7 linked regions of the Homo sapiens genome follow. The protein of the gene in region 2 purifies or fractionates together with the protein of the main gene of each other region. This does not show direct contact. Each region holds a gene or a part of one and is shown on either strand. Other genes may lie near its edges. The genes, in order: KCNJ8, TMED6, POMT2, LRP12, ATF6B, ITGA2 and VEZT.

What was found.
Region 1: the proteins of TMED6 (region 2) and KCNJ8 purify together in Homo sapiens (affinity purification with mass spectrometry; 2 studies listed by BioGRID and IntAct, with this or other methods). This does not show direct contact.
Region 3: the proteins of TMED6 (region 2) and POMT2 purify together in Homo sapiens (affinity purification with mass spectrometry; 2 studies listed by BioGRID and IntAct, with this or other methods). This does not show direct contact.
Region 4: the proteins of TMED6 (region 2) and LRP12 purify together in Homo sapiens (affinity purification with mass spectrometry; 2 studies listed by BioGRID and IntAct, with this or other methods). This does not show direct contact.
Region 5: the proteins of TMED6 (region 2) and ATF6B purify together in Homo sapiens (affinity purification with mass spectrometry; 2 studies listed by BioGRID and IntAct, with this or other methods). This does not show direct contact.
Region 6: the proteins of TMED6 (region 2) and ITGA2 purify together in Homo sapiens (affinity purification with mass spectrometry; 2 studies listed by BioGRID and IntAct, with this or other methods). This does not show direct contact.
Region 7: the proteins of TMED6 (region 2) and VEZT purify together in Homo sapiens (affinity purification with mass spectrometry; 2 studies listed by BioGRID and IntAct, with this or other methods). This does not show direct contact.

What each region holds. Positions count from the first base shown.
Region 1 is NC_000012.12:21,768,207-21,771,706, forward strand, and holds part of KCNJ8 (ATP-sensitive inward rectifier potassium channel 8), read right to left. Parts: intron 1-3,500. UniProt on the Homo sapiens protein: Inward rectifier potassium channels are characterized by a greater tendency to allow potassium to flow into the cell rather than out of it.
Region 2 is NC_000016.10:69,348,987-69,353,241, forward strand, and holds the start of TMED6 (transmembrane emp24 domain-containing protein 6 precursor), read right to left. Parts: upstream 2,801-4,255; 5' UTR 2,768-2,800; coding exon 2,555-2,767; intron 666-2,554; coding exon 539-665; intron 1-538.
Region 3 is NC_000014.9:77,279,384-77,282,883, reverse strand, and holds part of POMT2 (protein O-mannosyl-transferase 2), read left to right. Parts: intron 1-2,420; coding exon 2,421-2,492; intron 2,493-2,803; coding exon 2,804-2,863; intron 2,864-2,955; coding exon 2,956-3,061; coding exon of another isoform or gene 3,062-3,200; intron 3,201-3,297; coding exon of another isoform or gene 3,298-3,347; intron 3,348-3,500. UniProt on the Homo sapiens protein: Transfers mannosyl residues to the hydroxyl group of serine or threonine residues. Coexpression of both POMT1 and POMT2 is necessary for enzyme activity, expression of either POMT1 or POMT2 alone is insufficient.
Region 4 is NC_000008.11:104,586,459-104,590,436, forward strand, and holds the start of LRP12 (low-density lipoprotein receptor-related protein 12 isoform a precursor), read right to left. Parts: upstream 2,801-3,978; 5' UTR 2,440-2,800; coding exon 2,361-2,439; intron 1-2,360. UniProt on the Homo sapiens protein: Probable receptor, which may be involved in the internalization of lipophilic molecules and/or signal transduction. May act as a tumor suppressor.
Region 5 is NC_000006.12:32,114,764-32,118,246, forward strand, and holds the end of ATF6B (cyclic AMP-dependent transcription factor ATF-6 beta), read right to left. Parts: intron 3,276-3,483; coding exon 3,096-3,275; intron 2,932-3,095; coding exon 2,824-2,931; intron 2,642-2,823; coding exon 2,560-2,641; intron 2,345-2,559; coding exon 2,274-2,344; intron 2,053-2,273; coding exon 1,941-2,052; intron 1,802-1,940; coding exon 1,717-1,801; intron 1,206-1,716; coding exon 976-1,205; 3' UTR 501-975; downstream 1-500.
Region 6 is NC_000005.10:53,058,852-53,062,351, reverse strand, and holds part of ITGA2 (integrin alpha-2 precursor), read right to left. Parts: intron 2,479-3,500; coding exon 2,340-2,478; intron 1,452-2,339; coding exon 1,306-1,451; intron 1-1,305. UniProt on the Homo sapiens protein: Integrin alpha-2/beta-1 is a receptor for laminin, collagen, collagen C-propeptides, fibronectin and E-cadherin. It recognizes the proline-hydroxylated sequence G-F-P-G-E-R in collagen.
Region 7 is NC_000012.12:95,280,307-95,283,806, reverse strand, and holds part of VEZT (vezatin), read right to left. Parts: intron 1,495-3,500; coding exon 1,163-1,494; intron 1-1,162. UniProt on the Homo sapiens protein: Plays a pivotal role in the establishment of adherens junctions and their maintenance in adult life.

The sequences.
Region 1 (3,500 bases), on a different chromosome or scaffold from region 2:
GGAGGCAGAGCTCAGGAGGTAATGTTTGCTCCCCCACTGCTCACCTCCTGCTATGTGGCCTGGTTTCTAACAGGCCACAGACTAGTACTGGTCTGCAGCCCAAGGATTGGGAACCCCTAGTTTGGGGCACCATGAGCCATGCCCATATAAGATGGCAAACAATCGATAAATGTGTGTGTTCTGAGTCCTCCACTGACCAGCTGTTCCCTTGTTTCTTCCCCTTTCATCAGGATTTCCTATTCCCTGAGACACAGCACTATTGAAATTAGGTCAGTTAATAGCCCTACAAAGAACACTAAGTGTTCGAGTAAAGGAAATATTCGCTGTCTCTCACTTTAAATCAAAAGCAAAAATGATTAAGCTGGTGAGGAAGGCAAGTCAAAAGCCACGATAGGCCAAAGTTTAGGCCTGTTGTGCCAAACAGCCAAGTTGTGAACAGTGGAAAGAAAAAGTTTTGAAAAAAATTCAAAGTGCTACTCCAGTGAAGACACAAATGATAAGACAGCAAAATAGCCTCATTGCTGAGATGCAGAAAATTTGAGTGGTCTGGATAAAAGACCAACTAGGTCACAACATTCCCCTAAGCCAAAGCCTGAATTAGAGCAAGGCCCTAACTCTCTTCATTTCTATGAAGGATGAGAGGTGAGGAAGCTGCAAAAGAAAAGTTTAAAGCTAGAAGAGATTGGTTCAGGAGGCTTAAGAAAAGAAGCCACCTTCAAAACAGAAAAGTGCTAGGTGAAGCACCAAGTACTGATGGAGGAGCTGCAGCAAGTTATCCAAAAGATCCAGCTAAGAAAATTAGTAAAGGTGGCTGCACTAAACAACAGATTTTCAGTGTTGAAAATGAAACAGCTTTCTATTGGAAGAAGATGTTACCCAGGACTTTCATAACTAGATAGAAGTCAATGCTTGGCTTCAAAGCATCAAAGTTCAGGCTAACTCTTGTTAGGAACTAATGCAGCTGGTAACATCAAGTTGAAGCCAATGGTCATTGATCAATCTGAAAATCGTAGAGCCCCAAAGTATTATGCTAAATTGACTCTGCCTATGCTCTATAAGTAGAACTATAAAGGCTAGAGGACAGCATATCTGTCTGCAGCATGATTTATTAAATATTTGAAGCCCACTGCTGAGACTTACTGCTCAGAAAAAAAGATTCCTCCAAAATATTATTGCCCATTGACAATGCTCCTAGTCACTCAAGTGCTCTGATGGAGATGTAGAAGGAGTTGATTGCTGTTTTTATGCTTATTAACACAACATCCATTCTACAGCCATGAGTCAGGGAGTAATTTCGACTTTTAAGGCCTATTACTTAAGAAATTTACATTTCATAAGGCTATTGCTGACATAGATAGTGAGTCCTGTGATGGAGCTGGGCAAAGTAAATTTAAAACCATCTGGAAAGGATTCACCATTCTAGATGCCATTAAGAACATTTGTGATTCACGGGAGGAGGTCAGAATATTAACATTAACAGGAGTTGGGAAGAAGTTCATTCTAATTCTCATGAATGAGTTTGAGGGGTTCAATACTTCAGTGGAGGGAGTCACTGCACATGTGGTAGAAATAGCAAGAGAATTAGAATTACAAGGGCATTCTGAAGATGTGACTGAATTGCTGCAATCTCATGATAAAACTTGGATGAATGAGGAGTTGCTTCTTCTGGACAAGCAACCAAAGTGGTTTCTTGAGATGGAATCTACTCTTGGTGAAGATGCTGTGAACACTGTTGAAATGACAACAAAGAATTCAGAAGATTACATAAATTTAGTTGATAAAGCAGTGGCAGGTTTTGAGAAGATTAGCTCCAGTTTTGAAAGAAGTTCTACTGTGGGTAAAATGCTATCAAACAGCATCACACATTACAGATAAATCTTTTGTGAAAAGAAAAGTCAATTGTTGCAGCAAACTCTTCATTGTCATATTTTAAGAAGTTGCCACAGCCACCCCAACCTTGAGCAACCACTACCCAGATCAATCAGCAGCCATCAATATCAAGGCTAGCCCCTCCACCAGCAAAAAGACCACATCTTGCAGAAGGCTCAGATGAACATTAGCATTTTTTAGCATTAAAATATTTTTTGAATTGAGATATGTATATTTTTCAGCCATAATGGTATTACACACTTACTAGATTACAATATAATATAAATGTTTTATATGCACTGGGAAACAAAAGGTTTGTGTAACTGTCTTTATTTTGATATTTGCTTTATTGCAATGGTCTGGAACCAAAACTGCAATATCTCTAAGGTATACCTGTAATTAATATTATACTAACTTGAATTTTCTCACTTTGGCCTAATCCTGTGAAAGAAGCAGAGGGAAGGAACCAAGAAGTTGTAGGATTTTCTTGGGAAGCTTTTTCAAATTGCACATCTACTCCCTATCTTAGTGAATAGACATTGATTTGGTAGGCTGAGGTTGGATCTGGGTAAGATGCTTTTGAAAAGTTCTCAGGGGATTCTGATTTACTCCCATATGGGAAGCACCACATTTGTTACTATCAATTTATAACACTTAATTTCACAACAAGTACTGCTGTGGCTTCTTCATAGAAACAATATTAGTTCTATCTTTGCCCCCAACCACAATTTCAAACTTCTCTAACTTTATAGAAGACAAGCCTACACATTAGCAATCTCTCAAAGTATTACCTATTTATTAATGCTACAGACAGCAGGTGAGAAAAATGTTTAAACATTTGAGTACTTGGTATGTACAGTGCACTTTGGTAGAAAATTATGAGGGATAAGCAAGAATACATGGATTATTCTTTTGATTAGCTTTTAAGTGAAGTGCGAAAGTTGCCTTTCTCTTTTGTTGCTAAAATGATTCATGGAAAACTACAGTAATTGCCTATTGCACTAACTACCCACAAAAAGATATCTGGTATAGCCCCAAAACATGGCAAGAATAAAAATGGACCCCAGAGAAGGGGTATGGATACAACACTGATTTCTGATAATGTATCCATACCTCAGAGAGCAGTCTAATGATAAATATCCCAAATAGTTTGTTTTAATGGTTTAAGAGACTATTCATGAGCCACATTTTGTATATTGTTTATGAATTCTAAATATTACATATGGTACAAGACCCAGCTTTTTACTGACACTTGCTATGCTAAACAATCTCAAGAGATAAAAGTGTTTAGCTGTTTCTTTGTTCTGTTACAGAAAGAGGTAGGCTGGATAATATCGAGAAAGAGGAAATATATTGGTCTATTTTTTGACTCATATTAAATGGAGTCAAAGAGACTCCTTGCAGGAGAAAATACATGGAGGAGAAAATGAGTCACCCTAAGAGAAGAATGGTCAAACATTATTTGGAAATACTGGTGAATATTCAATGAAAAATGTTGTTTCCAATTTTAGTGATATGGTTGGACATTGAATTCACAAAGGGAAAAATGCAAAGAATTAGAATTATTATTAGTCACCTTTTACATTCTCATTGGGAGAGAATGAAGATTTTTAAGGTTTGCTGTTACCATT
Region 2 (4,255 bases):
AAAATGTCTTTTTTAGTGCAGCTGGCTATTAAAGAGGGCAGTTAAGACACTGCTGCTCTCCAAAGTGGGACAGGCTTGACCTGGCTGGAGGAGTGCTTTGCTGTGGAGTGTGGATATCTCACATGGATATCATGCATTTTCTTTTGTTCTGAATCTGCTTTTAGTAACTGACTCAAATATTCTGATGACTGGAAAGACATGCTTCCCTGTAATCCATTTGTTAATTGGAATTCTGTATTATAAATGGGTCTCTGTTTTTTGGTCACTTTCCCAGAATCTGATTAACTGGAGATGATGAGATAAAATTGAGCGGCTGAACCCTAGACTTAGAATGCTCACCTGGAGTGTTGCCCCCAAATCGTCAGTAGACTGCCACTTGGCATCCTTGGAGGTCAGCAGCCTCCAGGAACACTGGTTTTTGGTGTTAAAGGCTGAATTTTTTTCCTACTGTTAAAACATCTCTGTATACTTCCTCATTATTTCTGTAATTTCATAGGACCCTATGATTATTATAATAGCCATGGTAATGAAAACAGACCTGTCTCTTGGGTAGAGAAGTTAATCTGGCCCCGAACACCCTGGGAGGTGTCTATGAGAAATCCCTGTGGGTTATGTGCCGTGGCAGCAACATGCCGGTCATGTGACATCCCCACTGTCCGCTGAACCTGCCAAGACACATTAAATAGGTAGCAGAACCCCTGCTACATCACGAGGAAGCCAGCTGAGTGGTAAGATTGACGTCCCACGGTCATCAGCACAGCGGTCTCTGTCTGGGGTGGGACTGCCCAACCCCCTGCTGGGGTTTGGAGTTGATTGGAGGATTCTGAGGTATCACAGTGATGGTGTTAAGGGGAGGCAGCACAGCATTGCTGAACGTCTGCAATGTAAGAAACAGTACAGCAGGACAAAGAACTGCCCAGAATGCCAACAGCACCCGTGTGAAGAAGACATGCCTTGCTCGGAACACACAGCTAGTGTGGATCCACTAAAATGTATGATTCTGGGCCGGGCGCGGTGGCTCACGCCTGTAATCCCAGCACTTTGGGAGGCCGAGGTGGGCAGATTACAAGGTCAGGAGTTCGAGACCAGCCTGGCTAACATGGTGAAACCCTGTCTCTACTTAAAAAATACAAAAATTAGCCTGGCATGGTGGCGTGCGCCTATAATCCCAGCTACTTTGGAGGCTGAGGCAGGAGAATTGCTTGAACCCGGGAGGCAGGGATTGCAGTGACTCGAGATCATGCCACTGCACTCCAGCCTGAGCGACAGAGCAACACTCTGTCAAAAAAAAAAAAAAAAAAGTACGATTCTGGCTGTAGAATTTTTTATTTTTTTTGAGACGGAGTCTTGCTCTGTCACCCAGGCTGGAGTGCAGTGATCTTGGCTCACTGCAACCTCCACCTCCCAGGTTCAAGCGATTCTCCTGCCTCAGCCACCCAAGTAGCTGGGATTACAGGCACATGCCACCAAGCCCGGCTAATTTTTGTATTTTTAGTAGAGATGCGTTTTCACCATATTGGCCAAGGTGGTCTCGAACTCCTGACCTCAGGTGATCCGCCTGCCTCAGCCTCCCAAAGTGCTGGGATGACAGATGTGAGCCACCGCACCCGGCCTGGCTGTAGAGTTCTTGAATGAACTTGCTTGGTGGTTGAGCTCCCCAATGATGTCCCAGATTTGGGCATTTGCTGCTTGGCAGTGCACACCTACAACAAGCACTCCATGGACACTTGCTCCCAAGCTAGATCTTGATTAGGCCAGGCCACAGTGAGCTTAGTAGTGGCTGCTGTTCTAATAGAAATTCAGAGGTAAGAAAAGTCTCTGATAAGTTTATTTAAAATAAATGTTGTTACAGTGGAGTAAGATCAACAAAGTCTATTACTATGTAAACAAAAATTAGAAAGTTAACCGATTTCTAAGATAAAGAACAAAGGAAATGAACAGCCTCTAACTTTCATACTGAGTTCACCATCCTTGGACAGCATGATATAAGACCATAGTATGGGTAAAAGTACTTGACCTTTGAATAAGTAACTTGAAAACACTTACCGTCCTAAAAAAAAAAAATAGGATTAACTGGCCGAATACAAAAAACTTGACCTAGTGAATCTCTGACTTGCCAGAATTGCTCCTAAAGGCAGCAGAACCTTTACTCCCCCACCCCATAAGCTGAAGCAGCCTTCTTTGAAATCTCTGGATCAGTCTCCAAAGCACCATTATCCAATTTTGTTTTAATATATTAAAAATGTATTCTCTCCCCTCTCATCCCCAAATCCGAGTACATGTAATGATTACCTCTTCAGGGAGAGGCACCCCGTCTGCCCCATGGCTTTGAGCATGGCCCCTGATGTAAGAAGCCAAACCATATGTTTTAGCTCCTGTTGGTGATTATTCACCCAGCTGGAGTTTCCCTCTAACTGCAGGTCCATTTCATTAACAGGTGGGGAATCACAGCATAATAAAGACAACCAGACCTTGTTTTGGCCTAAAACCTGACCCACTTTATGAGTAAAGGAGAAAAAAAAAAGCCCCCCAGTATGGCCAGTCACCCACATACCTCGTAACTGAAATAGAAGTATCCAGTCTGGTGGGCAAATTGCCAAAAGCATTCCGTGCCTCCTGGAGGTATCATGATGGCAAAGTCATATCGATCAGCTCCACGGAAGAGTGGCTGGTCCCCAGAGCCACTTAGAGGTTCTGTCTTCTGGCTCCTGGCAGACGTCACTAGATTCAGAACGACCAGCCCAGCCCCAAAGAGCAAAGGGGACATGCCGCTTTCTGGAGCCTCCTCTGCAGGTGAACTGCTCGCAGCCCAGGGAAATCAAGTCGTTCAGACAACCGCTGGGCTAATGATTAACTCCACAAGTCACATTACGGCCCATTTCAGGGCCACACATAGATATTCATCATAGAACTGCCATGATACTCCCATGTTTGGCTCGCAGGAGGAAATTTTGCTTTCACCTCAAAAACTCAGTGGCTTACCAAACCTACTTCATGGGTGCTACATAGAATCTACCACCTCAGAAGAGGTCTTTCCACCCTTCATTAGGGCTGTCATTTTTTAGTTCCTGCTTCTTGGGGATATAATAGTGGGTAAGTTTACAACTTCTGAATACACTGACAAAAAGTTGGCTGGGGGGATTGTTCTCTTACATCAAATTGCTCCTATAAACACATGGGGCAACACTTCTCTCTCCCCAATGCTGCAGCTCAGAGCAAATCACAGCATGTGTGTGCAAAGATGTAAATGGATGAATACAGTGCCAGAGGATGGTGCTTAGACCCCTCCACTGACAGTCCTCGTCCTGATGCCTTTCACCTAACGGTCACCTAAAGCTATCCAAACCCACTGAAAGACAATTATATTATCCAAAGCCTCAATCTTTTTTTTTTTTTTTTTTTTTTTTTCTGAGATGGAGCGTAGCTTTGTCACCCAGGCTGGAGTGCAGTGGCACGATCTCTGCTCGCTGCAACCTCCACCTCCCCGGTTCAAGCGATTCTCCTGCCTCAGCCTCCTGAGTAGCTGGAATTACAGGTGCCTGCCACCATGCCCGGCTAATTTTTGAATTTTTAGTAGAGACAGGGTTTTACTATGTTGGCCAGGCTGGTCTCGAACTCCTGACCTCAAGTAATCCACCCGCCTCGGCCTCCCAGAATGCTGGGATTACAGGCATGAGCCACCACGCCCAGCCTTGATCTTTCTTTTATTCAGGACTTCTTCAGCACCCATGGGGGAAAAAACTATCCAGAACCCACTTAAAGACAATTATATTATTCACATCCTTAATCTTTATTCTTTTATTCATGATTTCAACACCCACCTCCTTCATGGCAGGCACTGAGCTAAGATTTACCTGCATCTTATTTTATTCTCACAATAGCCCTGCAAGGGAGGTATTGTGAGCTCTGGCATTAGAGATGAGGACACAGACATTCAGAGATTCCAGTGGTGGCTCACGCTCCCACAAGCACACCTGGCAGAGCTGGGTCCCCGGTGGGGGCTCATGCTCTTAACCACCAGGCAGGACAGTGTTTCTCATTCTCAAGCTGTCAGTCTCTGAGTTCTGACACTGCCTAACCATTTTTCAGTCCTAATCTTTTTTTTTTTTTTTTTTTTTTGCTTCCTTGAGATGGTATCACTCTGTCTTCCAGGCTGGAGTGCAGTGGCACAAACATAGCTCACTGCAGCCTCACCCCCTTGGGCTCAAACGATCCTCCCACCTCAGCCTCCCAAGTAGCTGGACCCACAGGAGTG
Region 3 (3,500 bases), on a different chromosome or scaffold from region 2:
TCACTCTACCCACAGCATTGCAGGGAGGTGTAGCACTTGTTATTTTTCCCCTGGTAAGCCATTGTCAAGTGGACTTCCCTGGAAGTGATTATGTAAGCAGTACTCAGTACATATAGTTGACTTATTTCACCAGATTAAATTTTAAAAATTCAAATTTTGTCATTTTTGCGCATTGGGAGGTGATAAGTTGACATTAAGCATCTCTGGGTCACTTCCTTTCTGACTCTCTGCTTGTAGCTGTCACTGTGGCCTGATGACATAGCTCTTTTGAACATGTGCCTGTCAGTCAGAATATCATTCTGGGCCTGGGTCAAATTTTAAGACTAAATCTACGAGTTTCATTTTGTCTTTCATTATCTAAGAAGTAGAGTCAGAGAAGAAAAGGGAAGTAATGAGAGCTTTCTTATTCAGCCAACAAAGAGTCAGGGAGGGGAGAGAGATGAAAACAGTGAGTCCAGACTATAGAAACTGCAGGGGCAGGGCTCTTCCGCTGGCTGAGTAGTGGCCCGGGACCTGGAGGAGAAGGCTGCCTTGCCTGGTGCAGTTACAGGAATGAGCCCATCCAGATTTCAGCCATAGAGAACAACTTACAAGTACATATGCCTGTGATGGTTGCAGATTTTTCTTTCCTCTTTTAGTTTAGCAACAGAGCAGGATTTCTCAGAGTTTAATGTAGTGAATAAGATTCCCTTGGCTTGGTACAGTTCTGGCTGGAGTCCTTGGGTTTGGGACCAAACTGTACAATTTGAAGGAATTGGTTTCCCTCAGCAACTGCCGCAGGGGTCCAGAATGATTCATTCCTCATTCCCAGGTCCTTCAAAGGGCCGCAGTGACGCTGGGGCCGTGCAGCTGTCCCCTTTGTGTCTGATGCCCTGGATGCACTTTTGACCTTGGAGGCACAACCTCTCCACCATGTAGAGGCCTGTAAACTATTCCCAGCCCCTTGCTGAACTGGATTCATAAGGCACTGGGTGGCAGTCCACTGAACTTTCTGGGTCTTTCTTAGGCTATACCAGTGGTTCTTAATTGAGGGTGATTTTGCCTCTCGGGACTTTTGGCCATCTGTGGAGAAATTTTTGGCTGGGAAACTGAGGGGTTGAGGGTAGGAGTGCTACGGGCATTCAGTGAGTGGAGGCCAGGAATGCTAAACACTCTGCAATGCACGGGACAGTCCTCACAGCAAAGACTCATCCAGCCCGAAATGTTGGGAGTGCTGAGGTGGAGAAGCTCCGGCCTAAGTCATGGCAGCTGACTCCCCTTCTGGGGAAATGCCTTTTCAGTCTGTCCCAGTGATAAGGCAGAACCCAGTCCTAGTGGTTAATATCCTGGATCCTGACCCTACTCCTTCCTGTTTTAGCAAAGACCTGGTTTGCCCTGTAGAGAAAGGTTAGCAGATGTTCTTGGCTGCTGGATTAGGGAGGCTGAGTCTGGGTCCTTCAAACCAAAGCATGCATTAGGGTTGATTTCTCTCCCAATAGATGAAATGTGTTCTTGGAGGGCAAAATATCTAATTTTTTATGTATAAAGCACAAGTAAGATGTACAGTATAAAGTATTAAAATGTCATGGAGTGTGTTTAGGGAGAAACTTGTCTACAAAGGCTCCTGGTAGAGGGGCAGTAGTGGAAAAAAAAGGTGGAGAAGCACTAAGCTAAAGCAACCTCTTCCAAGTCTAGGCACGCATGAGAGTTTCTGCTTTTCTGTTTGAAATTGGCCCCTGAAGGGAACAAATAAGTAAGCCTTATTATTTATTTATTTATTTATTTATTTATTTATTTATTTATTTATTTTGAGACTGAGTCTTGGTCTTTTTGCCTAGGTTGGAGTGCAATGGCATGATCTCAGCTCACTGCAACCTCCGCCTCTTGGGTTCAAGTGGTTCTCCTGCCTCAGCCTCCCAAGTGGCTGGGATTACAGGCACCCACCGCTACGCTCAGCTAATTTTTTGTATTTTTTAGTAAAGACGGGGTTTTACCATGTTGGCCAGGCTGGTCTTGAACTCCTGACCTCAGGTGATCCACCCGCCTCGGCCTCCCAAAGTGCTGGGGTTACAGGCATGAGCCACTGCACCCGGCTGTAAGCCTCATTTTATATCCCCTCTCTCCCACCATTTTCACACCTTGTCCTTAGCTTGGCAGATGGGTATATATTTTGTGCCCATTGGAACAATTTCCTCTTTCCCTTCTTTTTCCCTAGAAGGTTGGAATGGACCCCTTATGGGAGATGGAGGCTTGTCTGGGAGAAGTAAAGCAAGTGTCGTAGGTAGGCAGACAGCAGCTGCCTGATTCTTCCCTGCAAGGGAAGGGAAGGAGAGAAGGTTCTGCTCGGCGCTTGGCCCTATATCAGAAAAACCTGGGCCCCACATTTCTGTCAGCCCTCTAGATCTCTGTCTTGACTAGCTTTCTTTGCTACCTTCATGCAGGGGAACAGTGGCCTCAAACCCAAGGACAATGAGTTCACGTCCAAACCCTGGCACTGGCCTATCAACTATCAGGTAGGATCCAAGGCTGGGGCTCCTCCCAGGAAATGGAGCCAAGAACAAGAGCAGGGAGACCGGTGGAGGCGGGGGTGGGTGTACTAGGGCGGCAGGGCGAGGGGCCTCCTGGGATGGGTTGGCCAGAGGTGGGAGTATCTGTTTTCTGCCCTAATTCTGACCCTGCTTCCCAGAGAGCTCGTGTAGAATTTGCCAGCCTGAGGTTCGTGTCCAGGCTCCCTGTCTGTGGAAGGTGACCATCTTCCTCCCCCTAATGGGTGTGGCCGAGGATGGGCTGGGCCTGGGTCAGCAGGGTGGTCTCTATTCCACAGGGCCTACGCTTCTCAGGGGTCAATGACACAGATTTCCGAGTCTATCTGCTTGGCAACCCGGTGAGTGCCTAAACATTCCCGGCTCAGGCCCTGGAGCACTTGCCCGTGGAGAGCGGCTGCGTTCTCATCTGCCCATTCCCATTTCTGCACAGGTGGTTTGGTGGCTGAATCTGTTGAGCATCGCCCTCTACCTCCTCTCAGGGAGCATCATTGCTGTAGCCATGCAGAGAGGGGCACGGCTGCCAGCGGAGGTTGCAGGTCAGGTCCTCTGGGCTCTCCCTCCCCTGACCTGGCGGCAGCAGGGCACCTGCACCCCTGGGGAGGGCCGGCTGCCTGCTGATGGGCCATCCTTTGCGTTTACCACCCCACACCTTCCCTTATCCTTTGCTTTTGAAAGGTAACAACCCCCAAGTACCCAGTGCTGTGTTAAACACTTTACTTCCTCCCAACAACACTAGAGCGTTGGCTATTATGACCCCCATTTTATGGATTAGGAAACCAAGGAACCATGAGATTAAGAAACTTGCCCCAGGACATACAGCTAGTAAGTGATAGAGCTGAGGCTCAAACCCGTGCAATCTGACTCCACAGCCCTCACTTTTAGCCCCATGCTGTGTACAGAGCTGCCCATCTTTTCTGCCACCTCCTTGTTCCATGGCCCTGTCCTCTCATGGGCTAGAGAGGAGCCTCCAGGGTT
Region 4 (3,978 bases), on a different chromosome or scaffold from region 2:
TTCATTAACAGAGCTAATTATTTTTGAAGCCTTTTAAAACACACACACACTTTTTACTGTATAGAGGACAGTTTCATAAATTACAGCTAGTATCTGTTCTAACAGGCTCAAGGCGACAGCTATTTCTCAGGATGCATCCACCACCCATTACAACTACTATATATTCTAAGTTACTCAATTCCCACTATTGTTATAGAACCACATCCACCCCATACTATTGTTACAGCCCTTTTTCACTATTATAAACCCACATATGGTTAGAGACAGAAGAGGACAAAAAACATGCAGCCATAAAGAGGATTTCTCAGTTCCAGGGTGAAGGGTTCCCTTTAATCTCTGCTGATATAGTTTAATGTTCTGCCTGGTTCACTACCTCCTTTTTTTTTTTACACTTTGAAACCTGCTGTGGCTTGAGACATCAACCTTTGGCATAATCACCTGCTGGTTTTATAATCTGCGGCCCACACTGTTGGAAAAAGGAGTTTCAGTCTTTGCTTACTAACAATTTGTGTTCCTCACTGAACACAAATTCCAAAAAGATAAAAGCTTTGATAGGCACCTACCAGAAAGTCACTTTGTGTACAAGTACTAAAGAATGCACCAAAACAAATTGAGGGGTTCACAGCCTCTTATCCCTCGAGGCAAAAGACTTCTAGTTCAAACACTGATGACACAGGTTTTAATGAAAGAAGAGCCCATTTATTTATCTATTCTGATCGGACATCACAGAAATTCAATGCTTATTATAGTAGAGGACAAAGCTGGACAATCCTAATCACCCTAAATTAAAGATACCTCTCAATTTCTTCTCTCTCCTGGGCCATTACACCAAACCTAGAGCAGAACTATACCCACCTTCAGGGCAGAAGAAACAACGTAATAGCTTATTGATCTCTGGTGTAGACCCAAACCCACAAGTCATCAGGCAAGCAGGGATTACAGCCACTTGATGCAGCTAACAATCAAAAGTCGTGTACTGGGTTTTTGGTCCCACACAAGCACACCTCTGGCAATTACCCCTACATAAAAAATGGACCAAACTACTCTCCTCACCAAAACAAACAAAAATACTACTAATCAGGTACGGGAGCAACACATCCTTAATTGTACCAAAAAGAATTTCTTGGCTGTCAGTAAATGCCCAATTACGTTCATTAATTCTTCATTTAGCGTCACTTGCCAGGTTTCAAAAGCCACCATCACATTCAATTCCGTAGATAAATGCCTTCAAAAGAGATAACACTTGCTGACAAATTGGCTGTTGACTAAACCTCACCACCACCACCATTATACTAGTCAAATCAATGTTTGTGGCAAATGAATTAGACTTTTTATAAGTAAAATTTACCAAAGTAATGATATCTTCTAATTCTTTTTCTGGAGAAATCAGAGCAACACTCCAAAAAGGAAAGGTTAAAACTGAGCTCTCTGAAATACCTATTCAGTGTGTTTAACTGATGAACTAAGAACGGTGAAGTCAGAAGTGTAACTTAATTATCTTAAGAGATAGATGTTCTTTGCAATTAATTCCATTCAGCTCTTGCTCAGACCCCAACGCAATATAAAGCTGTCCGCACAGTCTTCAGCCTTCTCTTAACCCGAAAGGAGTTATCTCTAACCCGATCCATCGACTGGAATAAAGTAACAGTGACCACAGCGGCGGACGAGGATGGATGAAATTACAATTGAACTAGGAGTCAGGACAGATGTGTACACCCTAACAGGAGAGACTGAGGTGGGGCTGGAAACTATTTTCTGGCCTTCTCCCGCGTGCTGCTCCCGGGGAACCAACAGGACCCTGCACGCCCGGATTCGGCAGAGCCCTTGCCCCCGAGGTGGAGTGGGGAGAAGTCAGCGGGAAGCCTTTTCAGGGAATCGAGTAGGACAAGGGCTGGCGCGGTGGGAATCTCGCCGGTGAGAGAACTTCCTAACCCCGGGTTGAGGGGGCGGGGGGAAGGACCGTCCCGGCAGCGGCGGGGGCGAGCTCCTCTGCTTTCTCACAGTCAAGCATCTTTGTGTGTGGATTGTGCCAGGCTACGGGTCCTGGAGCAACTGGCCGCGGGGGCCCTCGAACCCAGGTCGGGAAGTCCGCCCGCCACCCCCTCGCTCCGCCGGGGCCCTCCCGGCCGGGCCCCCCAGCCCCTCTCCACCACCCGAGGGTCTGGAGGTGGACGAGTGGAGAAAAGCATCTCCGTGTGGGGACACCCGTTCCGCCACATCCACCCCCTCACCGGTCTTTGTCCCGCCGGTAGCCAGGGTCTCCGCGGGAGTCTCCAGGGGAACCCCCGTCCTGGAGGCCTCGGGGCCCGGGTCGCCTCAGCTTTGTTCGGTCAGCGGGGCGCGGGGACGCGGACACTTACCGTACACCCCAGCGAGGAAAAGCAAGAGCAACGCAGACCTCCACCGCGGAGACTCTTTTGTGCTCCAGCGACAGGCCATAACCACAGCAGATGGAGAGAGAGAGGAGGAGACGGAGGAGGAGGGAGGAGAAGCTGGAGGTAGACGACGCCGACGCCGCCGCCGCCGCCGCCGCCGCCGCCGAGCCACCGGCTGCTCCCTGCGCTCTCCGCGGCTGCGGGAGGGGGAAGGGAGGGGCCGCCGCCGCCCGCGCGCGCTCCCTCCTCCCTCCTCCCTCCGGCTCGCCTGCTCCCACCCCGGGCGGTGCGAGAGCCCCACGCGGGGCGGCCCTCCTGGGGGCAAGGGCAAGGAGCTCGCGCGCCAGCGCGAGACGAGAGGGTGGCGGACGCCGGACTCCGGCCTCGCGCCGCTCGGGCTAGCCGGCGCCGCCACTCGCCAGACTGAGCGCGCGCCCATCCGTGCGATCGGCAATCCCCTGGCCCGCCTGCCTCGGTTCCCTCCCCGCGCTCCGCTGGACTTTCCAAGTTTCGGGCCGATTTCCACGCGACGGGAGCCCAAGGAGCAAGGCAGCGCCAATCGATGACAGAGCGTGCGAACGCCGGCTGCTGGATGCCCAGGGGCTGGAGCGCGGGGTGTGTGGAGGAGCACGGTCGCTGTCCGAGGGCTGGGCTCTGGCCCAGCGGGTGGGGGGAGGGGGGGTGGGATACCAGCTGGGAGGCTGAAGGTGGTTCCGTGTTGGGGGAGGCGTGGATGGTCTGAAGCTGACAACTTGGGAGTTCCTTCCTCTATCCGGTACCCCCAAGTCTCCACTTGCTGTCGGCGCGGAGCTTCGAGTGGGGGTGGGCTCAAGTTAGTGCGGCCAACCTGGCAGCTGGTCGGTCAAGGGGCAGTGTGGACTCCCACGCTCAAGGTGCCCGGAATGAGTCGGGCAAGGCTTGTGCAGAGCCCCTCCAGTCTGGCGTGGAAGCGCCAAGAGGTCATTTGACATCTCACGCTGGGTCGGGTGCAGCTGGGCCAGGATGTTCGGCAGGGCTGGAGCCGACTTTCAGGGTAGATATATTGAAAGGAGGATTCGCCCATCACGCTGCAGTTTCCCTAAAGCTCTTTTCTCACTCCCAGCAAATGGGAGTCCTCCTTTACTTAGATCCCCAGAACACTTTTCTAAGTACGTCTGTAGTGACGCTGGCACATCAGACCTTACCCCCTGTGTTTTTAAAGCGTTTGTCTACAACGTCTTATTTATATTAGATTTTATCGTTGCCCTTTGCAAGCACTCTCCATGCTATTCATTGAAGACCTACACTGCATCATGCTGTCCTATTGACATAGGTTGTCACTTTTTAATCCCAAACATCCTTGTGAGATAAATATTACCCATGTTTTATAGAAAAGAGAGAAATTAAATTACTCATGGCAAGTAAGTTGTTTGAAACAGTTTTTCTCATTCCAAAGTAAAGATTGTTGCCCCTATACCACAGCAAACTCTCTAGCACAATGCTTAGCGCCTAGTAATGTGTCGGAGTTGGTGCCTGCCAGGGGGTTCGTGGTCTCCCTGACTTCAAGAATGAAGCTGCAGACCTTCCCGGTGACTGTTAACAGCTCTTAAAGATGGCACGGACT
Region 5 (3,483 bases), on a different chromosome or scaffold from region 2:
TGTCTTTCATCTGGACTCTCAAGTCTCAGTCCCCTCCAGTTTAGGGCTTAGAGGATATCCTGCCACATCCCCCTTCCCTTCCAAATATCACCCCTTCTTCACCGAGACCCCCACTTCCTGGGCTCTGAGCCTCTGGCCCCAGCTCTTGTTGTTTGTTTGAGCTGCTCATCCTGGACAGCAAGAAGAGGGGGAGAACCTGCTCGAGAGCAGGAGACCCAGAGGCTGCTCACCCTGAAGGGCGTGGGGCCCCATCTTTCCTGTTGACTCACATTCCAGGGATGCGTATCCTCTAGTCTGTCACGCCATGAGACATCGTTGCTAGACACAGATATACCCCAGAGTTGCAGGGGTGGGGGCAAGGGGATGACATGCGGTCTGTGATCCCGCACCCACCCCACCTCAGAGCCAGCTATGTCTTCAGTGCTTGATTCTTTGATGCTGGCTCTGGAAAAGCCACTTTCCCCCAAACTCCCCATCACGAGCCAGGAAGGCAGCCACCATTCCTTCAACTCCCTCCAAGTTGTTTATTTAATAATAATAAAAAAGAAATGCACACACATAAACCTGAACTCCCCCCCACCCCACCCTCCCTTACTCCCAGTAACTAGCTCCAAAATGAAAAAACTTCCCTTGTCCCACCTGGGGACTAAATTCCCACCTCCACTGCCATAACACTAGAGAAACAAAATAAAAAATATGCAGCAGCTCACCACCCACCCCACAACTGAACCTCACACAATCCCCTCAAACAAAGAAGCCAGGACTGGGGGTTCACAGGAATGAGAGGAGCCCTATATTCTGAAAAGGGATGAGAAGAGAGGTGAACACCCCCACCTCAAATAAGTGCTTAACCCCCACACCTGCTCTTTCCTTTACCAATTGCCCCAAGCCTGGGGATCAGGGAAATTTGAAACAGTCCCACCTGGCCACCTGGTACCCCCTCCCCCCGTTCTAAGTCAGTGTGAATGGCAGAGGTCAGGGATGATTGAGGTAGAGGGGCTGGTGGGAGGCCTGGTGGGCCTGGCTGGCTGCAGAGACTGGCAAGGGGCCACCTGTGGCATTGCCTGGGGTTGGGGATGGCTGTTTTCGGAGCGAGGGGGGCACTGTGGAGGTCTTGATGTGAATCACCCTGGTGTCCATGACCTCACACTCGATCTGCATCATCTCCTCATAGTCCCCCGGGGCCCCACGGCCTGACAGGGTCTCTGTGAGAAGGGGAGAGTTAAGGAAGAGGAGATGGGGAGGCAAACAGGGATTGCAGGGAGGAGGGGAGGAGGTCAGAAAAGTAGAGGTGAGCAGAGAGAAAAAGAAAGGGCAATAGTGAGGAGGCAGATCCATAGCGGGAGTTAAACAGGATGGCAGGGACAGAGTTTGGTGCAGGGGCAAGGAGAGGGTAGGAAAAGAAAAGGGCATTGAGTGTGGGGTCACACAGGAGAGGACATCAAGAGAAAAAAGTAAGTGAGAGTCTAGCAGGTTCCCGGCCCCCCGCCTCTGCCCAGTCATCTACCCAAGCACCTTCACCAGGGAAGGACCCTCACCCTTGTCTCCCTCCCAAGTCTCCTGCATGGTGCTCTTCCCTCCACCTACTTCCTGCTGCTTCTCACCTGTGGGTCCAGCAGCTCTCTGGATGCCCTGCTCCTCTCCCCCTTCCCCCTCAGCTCCCAGGCTGGATCTCCCTGTTGGAACTGCCCCCATACCCAGCAGGGAAAGAGTTACCATTGGGGGCCATGGCAGGCATCACCAGGGACATCTTGGGCCGGGAGGTCTTGTTGTGGCTGATGGCTGGGAGCAGCAGGTGGTCCTGGGGAACAGATGGGCCAGGCCAGAAGGGTGGAGGCAAAGATGCCAACAAGCTCCCCAGCCCTACTCTACATCCCCCCACTGAAGACAGACTGCTGGGAACCTGGGGTGACAGAGATGGAAGGGCAGGAGAAACTCACCCTTCGGAAAGAGACAACATAAAATGTGTCTTCCCGTCGGTCAATTGCATCCAAGAATGCTGGCTGCGAACGGTCTGGGTGGCGATATAGTTGCAGCTGGCCCACAGAATCCCTAGGCAGGTGGGGAAACAGGATTTGAGGGGAACTAAGCCCAATGCTCAGTTTCTACCAGGGAAGCGGGTAGGATGAGAGAAAAAGACAGGAGACCCCCAGTGGAGGAGGGAGGTATAATCCCACTGGTGACAGTAATGACAGGCACAGGACAGCTACTGGGGGTACAGCTCTTGAAAGTGGAATTTCACTTAATAAGTAAGCACCCCACCCCACACTCACCTTTCTGGGGGTCCAGGGGGTTGGATGGGGACTGCCTTAACTGGAGGTGACTTCTTCCGTGGCTGAGACTTCTGGAAGGAGAAGTATCTAAGGACTTGGAGAGGGTGAAGGGAAAAGGGAAAGAGACAAACAGCCCCTGGAAGCTGATGCCACCTCCCACTCAACCCTCCACTTCCTTCAAACGATCCCTCAAACTTCCACAGCGAGATGCCCACTAGAAATCCCCAGACAAGGCCTTTAGCCCTTGTCTTCAAGTGGCCTTCCTTGAACCAGCCACCCGCCCTACCTGTCTCTCCTGGGCCCTCTGAGGGATCTTCCTCCGGCCTCTCTGGTGGCGCTGGACCCAGCCACTCAACTCGTCAGCAAGCCTGGGGAAATGGAGGAGCTCAGGACCTCCATGCCAGGCCAAGATTCCCACCCTCCTTGCCCACCCACAGGAGTGAGGAGAGGGCAGGGAGCACTGGCGCTTTAGTACACAGGCCAGCCAGGCTGACTGCAGAAGGCCTTGGGAGGCCGGGGGAGCTGGATGCCCCAGCAATGAATCCCACACCTCAGGGACTCAGTGCGGTTGAAGTGCCGGCAATCAGAGGAGAGGAAGAGCTGGTCTAGGTCTCTTAGTAGTAGCTCCTTGGCGCCCCCAGGGAAGGCTGTCAGGTTGCTGGAGTGAAGCAGGAAGGAGACAACACTTGGAGACTGCCCAGCACTCCCACAACAAAGAAGGCGATGACGGCAAGAGAAAGCTTTGGGTCCCCCTCACTGAAAGCGGGGAGAAGACCAACTCATACCCTCAAACGAGAGGGGGCCCTCTCTCTCTCTCCTCACCTGAAACTGGGCTGGTCTGTGGGGCTGGGCTGGGGCTCCTTAGGGCCCTGGGAGGACCCCTGGAGAGGTTCAACTCCCTGAACTGGCTCTTGCTCTGAGAACCCCAGCAAGTGTCTCCGGGGTTGAGGCTCCCCCTTGTTCATCCGAGGAGAGATGGGAGCTGAAGGAGGCTCACTGATGCTGTGGATAAAGAAGGACTGAGCACAATGAAGAATTTCAGCTGTATCAAGTATCTAGGTAAGAATAAAGACTCTGCAGATGGACTGCTTGAGTTGCAATCTGTTATACAAGCCTGAGTCTGCCTCTGTAAGATGGGAATAAGGATGGTCCCTACATACAAAAAAGACAGTGCATCACCTAGAGCCTAGAACTCAGTAAGCACTTAATA
Region 6 (3,500 bases), on a different chromosome or scaffold from region 2:
AAGCTTCTATAGTAAAATAAATTGTAATAGAGGCAAGTCCCAAAGGCTGAGTGATCAGAGAGCAGGAGAGTCAGGAAGGCTTAGAAAGTTAAAATATCATTCAAATTGCAAAGTAAGAAGGACATGGAGTTTTCTAGGCAGAGGGAAGTGGGAAAGCACATATGATGATGTAAGTGTACATGGCATGATATGAGACAGGTAAGTAGTTGCTGGATAGATTGGGACAGGAGGACAAGGTGGAGATAAATTAAAATAAGAAAAGCTGAGACTTTGAACCTTCATCCCATTCAACAACGTTCAATGCATGCCTATGTGAACACTTTTTGAGGATTTAGAAATGACTAAGAAATGATTCCTTCCATAACACTGTCACTGTTATTTTCTAAATTAAAGAAGAACTTCTTTAAAATATTAAAAAAGAGAGAAAAGTATGTGACCATAGCTAATTTGTGGTCACGGAAGTCAAGAACTCGGGTCTTCTTACTCCTAGAAAATCCATAGGAACAGCAGGATCACACTTAATCTCAGAGAAGAGAAATCTTTGTAAGTTTCTCCAGCTTAAAGAAGGAAACCACTTTTTGTTGGTTGTCAGGGATTAGTGATGCTCATTTTAAATGTGTGTCAAGCCCCTGGGTCAAAACTGTTTAGTAAGGAAACAGGAAGCAATCAGCTGGCCTTTGCTCTAGCAACAGATCTTTGCTGTAGTGGGCCATATCTGGGATTCATCATAGGGTCTAACTACCAAACTGTCACCCATCAGCTGAAAGTGGCAGAGAAGATAATTGTTTTACTTTTAGAATCTTCAAAACCAACAGGACATTCTGACAGGTTCAGATGTAAAAGTTCAGTCCTTATAATGTTGTGCTGCTCCCTTCTTCTCATTATTTCCTCTCCAAATCCTTGTTCCTAGTGTGTGCTTACCTACAAAGCAGTGGTTACATGCCTGCCATCACAACTAAATAATATCCATGCATTATTAATCCAGGGAGTCAAAAACATGAAGGGGATGTAATCATTCAGGACAGCCTCTGAGTCCAGAAAGGACTGAGTTTTAATGACAGCTCAATCCATGGACGCTGTGTGACCTTAGAAAGCTAGCTAAATTCCCAGTAAGTTGTCAAAAGGGAGGGCTGTCTTCTTGGTATTGTTGTGATGATTTAAGGAATACACTAAGTAAACTCAGATTACAGAGCCAATCACAGAGTAGGCACTCAGGCCATGTTGTTTTCCATTTCTGTTCACCTGACTCCCCACCTGCCCAGTTGCCCCTAAAATTAATTTCACCTGCTAAACAGTGAGATTTACCTGGTCACCTCGGTGAGCCTGAATAACCGTGATATTGCCATTCTCATTCACACTATATAGCACTATCTGGCCGGTATAATTTGCCCGAGGAGCACCAGCAACAAAGTGAGTGCTTTCTCCAGTAGAAATTGCAGCCACAGAGTAACCTAAAAGGGAAGGAGCAACAGAGTGATTAACATTGACTATCTGAGCAAAATAAAGTTAAAAGAAGTGAGTAAAGGTGACCAGAGATCCTTTTGTGTTAGATGTGATGCAAAGTTTCTAGTGCTCCTGAATACATCACTGAGGACATGTCTTCCTTTTTCTAAGATGAATTGCTCCTGTCCTTTGACCTGCAGCACTTCCCTTTGCAGGTGGGACTTCTACCTATAAAACTGCCTCTAGATTCCACGCTGTTCTCATCAGCCACCTGTGAACCTGGCATTCAAAAAATATTTCTTGAACGAATGAATAAATGTATTTAAAAGGTAGTGTTGCACAGTAGAAAGAACACAGGTCTTGGAAACAGGCTGAGGTTCAGATTCTGGATTTGCCGCTTACTAGGTTGTTGAACGTTAGACAAGTTGTTAATCTTGCTATCTCTCAAAGGCAAAACATCCCTGAAAGACTTGTTGGAAAGATTTAAATGTTTATGTAGATAGACTAGCAGCTCAGGAACTGTCCCATAGTAAGTCTGCAAAATCAGTGGCTGCTTATTATAAGAACAAGAAGACTAAGAGCTCTAAAATACTATAAGACTATCACTTACTGTATTGACTTTTGGGAACTATTTCCATTTTGGAGGAACACAATCATGTTCCAGGAATTACAACCACTTGACCAGCCAGAAGAAACTAGTGAGTATAATATAGTATTCCAATAAGTAGTTATGCCTTAAGGCCCGATTGGCAAAGAGACAACATATGTATGTGTAATAAATATGATAATTAGATGACAGTTCAAGGATTTTGCTGAACTCACCCTGAGATTCAACAAAGAGCTGGTTTAAAGCAAGGGAACTTAAGTTTGCTGAGCCAATTATTACCATGCCTTACCTAAATATGAACTGTGATTTCTGTCCTGCAGAATTTGGTCAAAGGCTTGTTTAGGAAAGATCAAATGGCCATGAGATGTCTTCTGGACAATGGTCCCACTCCAGCCAAAAGCTCCCACTGCACCCAGCATCAGAATATCCTAAAATAATTGAAAAATGAAGATCATTGAAACAAATCACCTTTAAAACATAAGAATGCAGGGTAGGCAAAACATTGAAATAAGTTGTTTAGATTTATTAAAAATGATGAAATATATATGAACATATATTGACATATTGTAGAATTGTCTTAATATATTTGTGCTAGAGAACAAGCCTTCCCATTGGCTGTGTTATTTTGGACTTTATTTAGTATGATATGTTATACAGACAAACCTTTGTAATAACCTGTAGTACAGGACAGGTACAGAGCCATCTTCAAATTTCCCTTTCAAAGGCATATATTTGCCAATGGTAAACCCTTATGAACTTTACAAAGGAGTCAGAAGTGAGTCTCTCACTCCACATATTTATAAGGAAAGCTCACAGCCGGATATGAGACATGCTTGAGAAACAGAAGTACTGACACGGGAGAGACGGAGATACTTCTGCTATCCCAGACACGGCTCGGGAGGCCCTCTTCTGACCTGTTCTACTTTCAGCTTTCTTCCTCTCTCTTCCTGACCCCTTCTCAAATGTTCCAGTATATTCCTATATTCCATCTATTTGATAATAGCACAGCTACAAGAGGCAACTTTAGCTGTGACATTCAATCTATTGGAAGGAAAATAACCATTTGTCAGCCCTGTGGGGAGGGCAAAGGAAGATGCCTACTCTGGATTGACTTGAAACCCAATCTAAACACTCAATGCTATAAATCATCAAACGAGGCAGATTTGGTGAGGATGAGATACACTATTTTTAATTTTTTGTTCTTCTATCTTAGAGCGTACCAAAGATAAGATGTTGGACTAAAAAATACAAGCCATGAAAAATAGCAAGTAAGGAAAAGATGTGTTCTACTTTGAGGATAAGAGACCATGAAGTTATGTGAATGACTGTAGTAAATTGAGGGACTCTGGATTTGGGGTGCATGAAAGGACTTCAGCGTATGTACAAAAACCTCATGGGATTGTGTGCAAAATTCTCCGTGCATAGATTCATTTACATTTTTTCTGAGGGA
Region 7 (3,500 bases), on a different chromosome or scaffold from region 2:
AGCAGATATAGACCACTGGAATACCCTGAGTTCATAGTGTCTTCATTTTTCCTATGCCATAATCTTTATATCAGCCTTATATCAAGCCTTATATCAAGCCCAACTCAGGCCTTGAACTGATGGGTAAAAACTTAGCTTCTAAAAATATCTTTCTGACTTTAAGTTCCTATCCTTGTATCTCTTATCCTCCCTAATTCCAGTGATTTTGATTTGCTGATTTAGCCTTTTGATTTTGCTGATGTATCAAGTCCTTTTGACCCATTCTTATTTACATAATCAAATACTGCCTTCCCCATTCCACTTCTTGCCTTGTATCCCAGGGTCAAGTACATCAACTACAATCTTGTCAGCTCTTTAAATTCCTAGGACCTTCCTGATTACCAACACAATTTGAACCCAACCATTCATTTGATCCAGTCCTACACGATGAGTATTTAACTGTTAGAGAAAAATTTCACTGGAAATGACTGTATTCAATTAAATGCCTTGATTCAATTTTTAAACTTGAAAACTTCCATGTACAAATATGTGAAAATAGTATTTTCAGCTGATAAAGGTATACCAAAGTGGGACATAAAAATTTAGGAATTAAGGTAGTATACCAACAATTTCATGCAAGGTAGGAAATGAACAAATATAAACTCTAGACTCTACATTTTGCTCTTCAACTGGGACCACAAAGCTTGTCCTGTGATACAAAAAAATTTTCAGATCTGCTGTAATTTATTTAGAAAAATAGCAATATGTTACTCTTCCACTATATATAACATATATACTGTTCCAGTACTGGTAGATATTTCTATTGGACTGCAGGTTCCAGTTTAAGAGCACTACCTTAAGACAGTTAAAAGAAACTCATTCTTTATAACCATCTCCATTTCAGCTCTCAAAGAGAATGAACAACACCTGCTTTTAGCCTACTTTTCCAAGTTTTCTGTTGAACTAAGGAAAAGTAAAAACTATAAATAATAACTCCCTCAAGTTATAGTACTTATAAATTATTTTTTTTTTTTGCTATATTTATAGCTATAAATCACCCTTCATGCTCATGCCTCAGTTTTGTTTCTTTTTTCTAGGTAGGACACAAGCCAACAACCACAATGGTACACGAATGAAGCTTGCTAATTACCGAGACCTTTCTTGGTATAATTTCTAAACTTACTCATTCAGTAATGCTTTCAGATGGAGCTGCAAGCTACGCACTGCTGTGTGAACATTATTCAGTTCTCTTGACTTCTGTTGAGTTTTGGATAAACACTGCGGTACTGACTGGTGCTGAGTTTCAAAGTACCGATAGAACTCATAGCTGCGCTTAAGCTCTTCCAAACAGGCAGAATGAGCATGAGGTAGACCTTGAGTCACATCAGATAAGATACGATGAGGCAGAAGTGCTGGAGTAAGTAAGGGCCCAGGAGGTGAATTGGCTGTAGAAAGTAATAGGGCTAACCGTCTGAAGAACTCTGAACTCTGTGCCACCCAGAGTTGGAACAAAACCTTAAAGAAAAAAGAAAAAAGAACTAGATCAATAAAAATATTGGTCAGTGTTCAAAACAAACTATAAATTTGTTTATCTTAACTTCTGGTTTAAATTTTGCACTTTATCCTAAATAATAAATATAGCCGAACTTAAACTACCTTAAGATTAGCCAAGAATATGATTTCAAATTATGTGTGTGGGAACCTCTGATTCCAATACAGCAGGTAACATCAATATATAATTTACTACAGTTCTGCCCTAGATGGGAAGTGTTGATGGAATGAGATAATTTAGTAAAAGTGAATCTTCACTCATTATTTAAAAAAAATTTTCACATAGGAGAAAAGAAGATAGTAGGACTAGTGGATATATATACATATATATATATATTTTTTTCTCTCCAAAGAAATGAGTCACATGGATCAAAAGCTTGGGTTTCAAAATAAGACTATTACCTTGCCCTAGGAATTAGCTAAGAAATTAACATAAAAATCAGTCCAGGGCTAGGCGCAGTGGCTCACTTTGGGAGGTGAAGGCGGATGGATCACTTGAGGTCAGGAGTTTGAGACCAGCCTGGCCAACATGGTGAAACCTCGTCTCTACTAAAAATACAAAATTTAGCCAGACATGGTGGTATGTGCTTGTAGTCTCAGCTACTTCGGAGGCCGAGGCAGGAAAATCATTTGAACTTGGGAGGCAGACGTTACAGTGAGCTGAGATGGCGCCACTGCACTCCAGCCTGGGTGACACAGCAAGACTCCATCCAAAAAAAAAAAAAATCAATACTCCAGGAATGTCTGACATGAGAAATTGCAAAACCCATTATTTTAATTAATTAATTAATTAATTTTTGTGATAGAGTCTTGCTCTGTTGCCCAGGCTAGAGTGCAATGGCACTATCATAGCTTACTGCAACCTCAAACTCCTGGGCTCAAGTGATCCTCCTACTTCAGCCTCCTGAGTAGCGGGAAACACAGGCATGTACCACCATACTCAGCTAATATTTAAGTTTTAGAGATGGGGTCTCAGTATGTTGCCAGGATAAATCCCATTCTTCTTCTTTTTTTTAAAATGCAGTCTGAATATGTTCATAGGCCCGTTCCTGAGATACATCCTGAATCCTGGCAGCAAAATATTTCTCCAGATATAGTCCTATTCAAGATGAGGACAATATCTCCGAAACAAATGCATGAGGAAACAATGTAGTATGAAACAAGAGGTAGCAGGGAATAAAAAGAGGATGAAACCACTTTGGGTAATTTAGATTCCAATTATTCACAACCATGAAAATAGACAGTATTTAGATGGTTTTAGTAAATGAATTTTAAAATTATGCCAATAATGAATTAAGATTATTTCATGTATATCTATTTTACCATTAACTTATTTTTTTTTTAAAGTGACCAAGGCCTAATTTCCTAGTTGCTACAGATGTGATATCTAGGGATTCTTGACTTGCAAGTTTACTTGCAAGCCTTCTTATTCAACTGTTAAATTTTATGATTACAATGATTTTTATTCTTTTGTTCGTTCATTCAGAAATGATTTCTTGAGCACCCATGATGTGCCAGGCACTGTTCTAGGTGCAGATAAACAGCAGTGAGCAAAAATGAAGAGTCCCCACTCTGATGGAGCTTATATTCAAGTAGAGGGGCACAGATAATAATTTACAAGTAAAAGATACTATTTCCCTTTTGCAGTAATGATTGTCGAGGAAGAAAAAGAAAGATAGTGTTTCTTGGTTGATGGGAAAAACACAGCAAAGAAGAGGAATAGTGTGTGTGTGTGTGTGTGTGTGTGTGTGTACACATATGAAAGGGGGGGAATAGTGTGTGTGTGTGTGTGTGTGTATGTGTGTGTACACATATGAAAGGGGGGGAGAGAGACAGAAAGCGCGAAGGAGAGAGGAGAAGGGGCTGGCTGGGGAGGTCTCTAAAAGTGTCACCTGAAGGAAGTGAGCCATGAGATAATCATCAAGGAAGAGAGTTCTAGGGAGCAGGAAGTCAAATGCAAAGTACTGTTG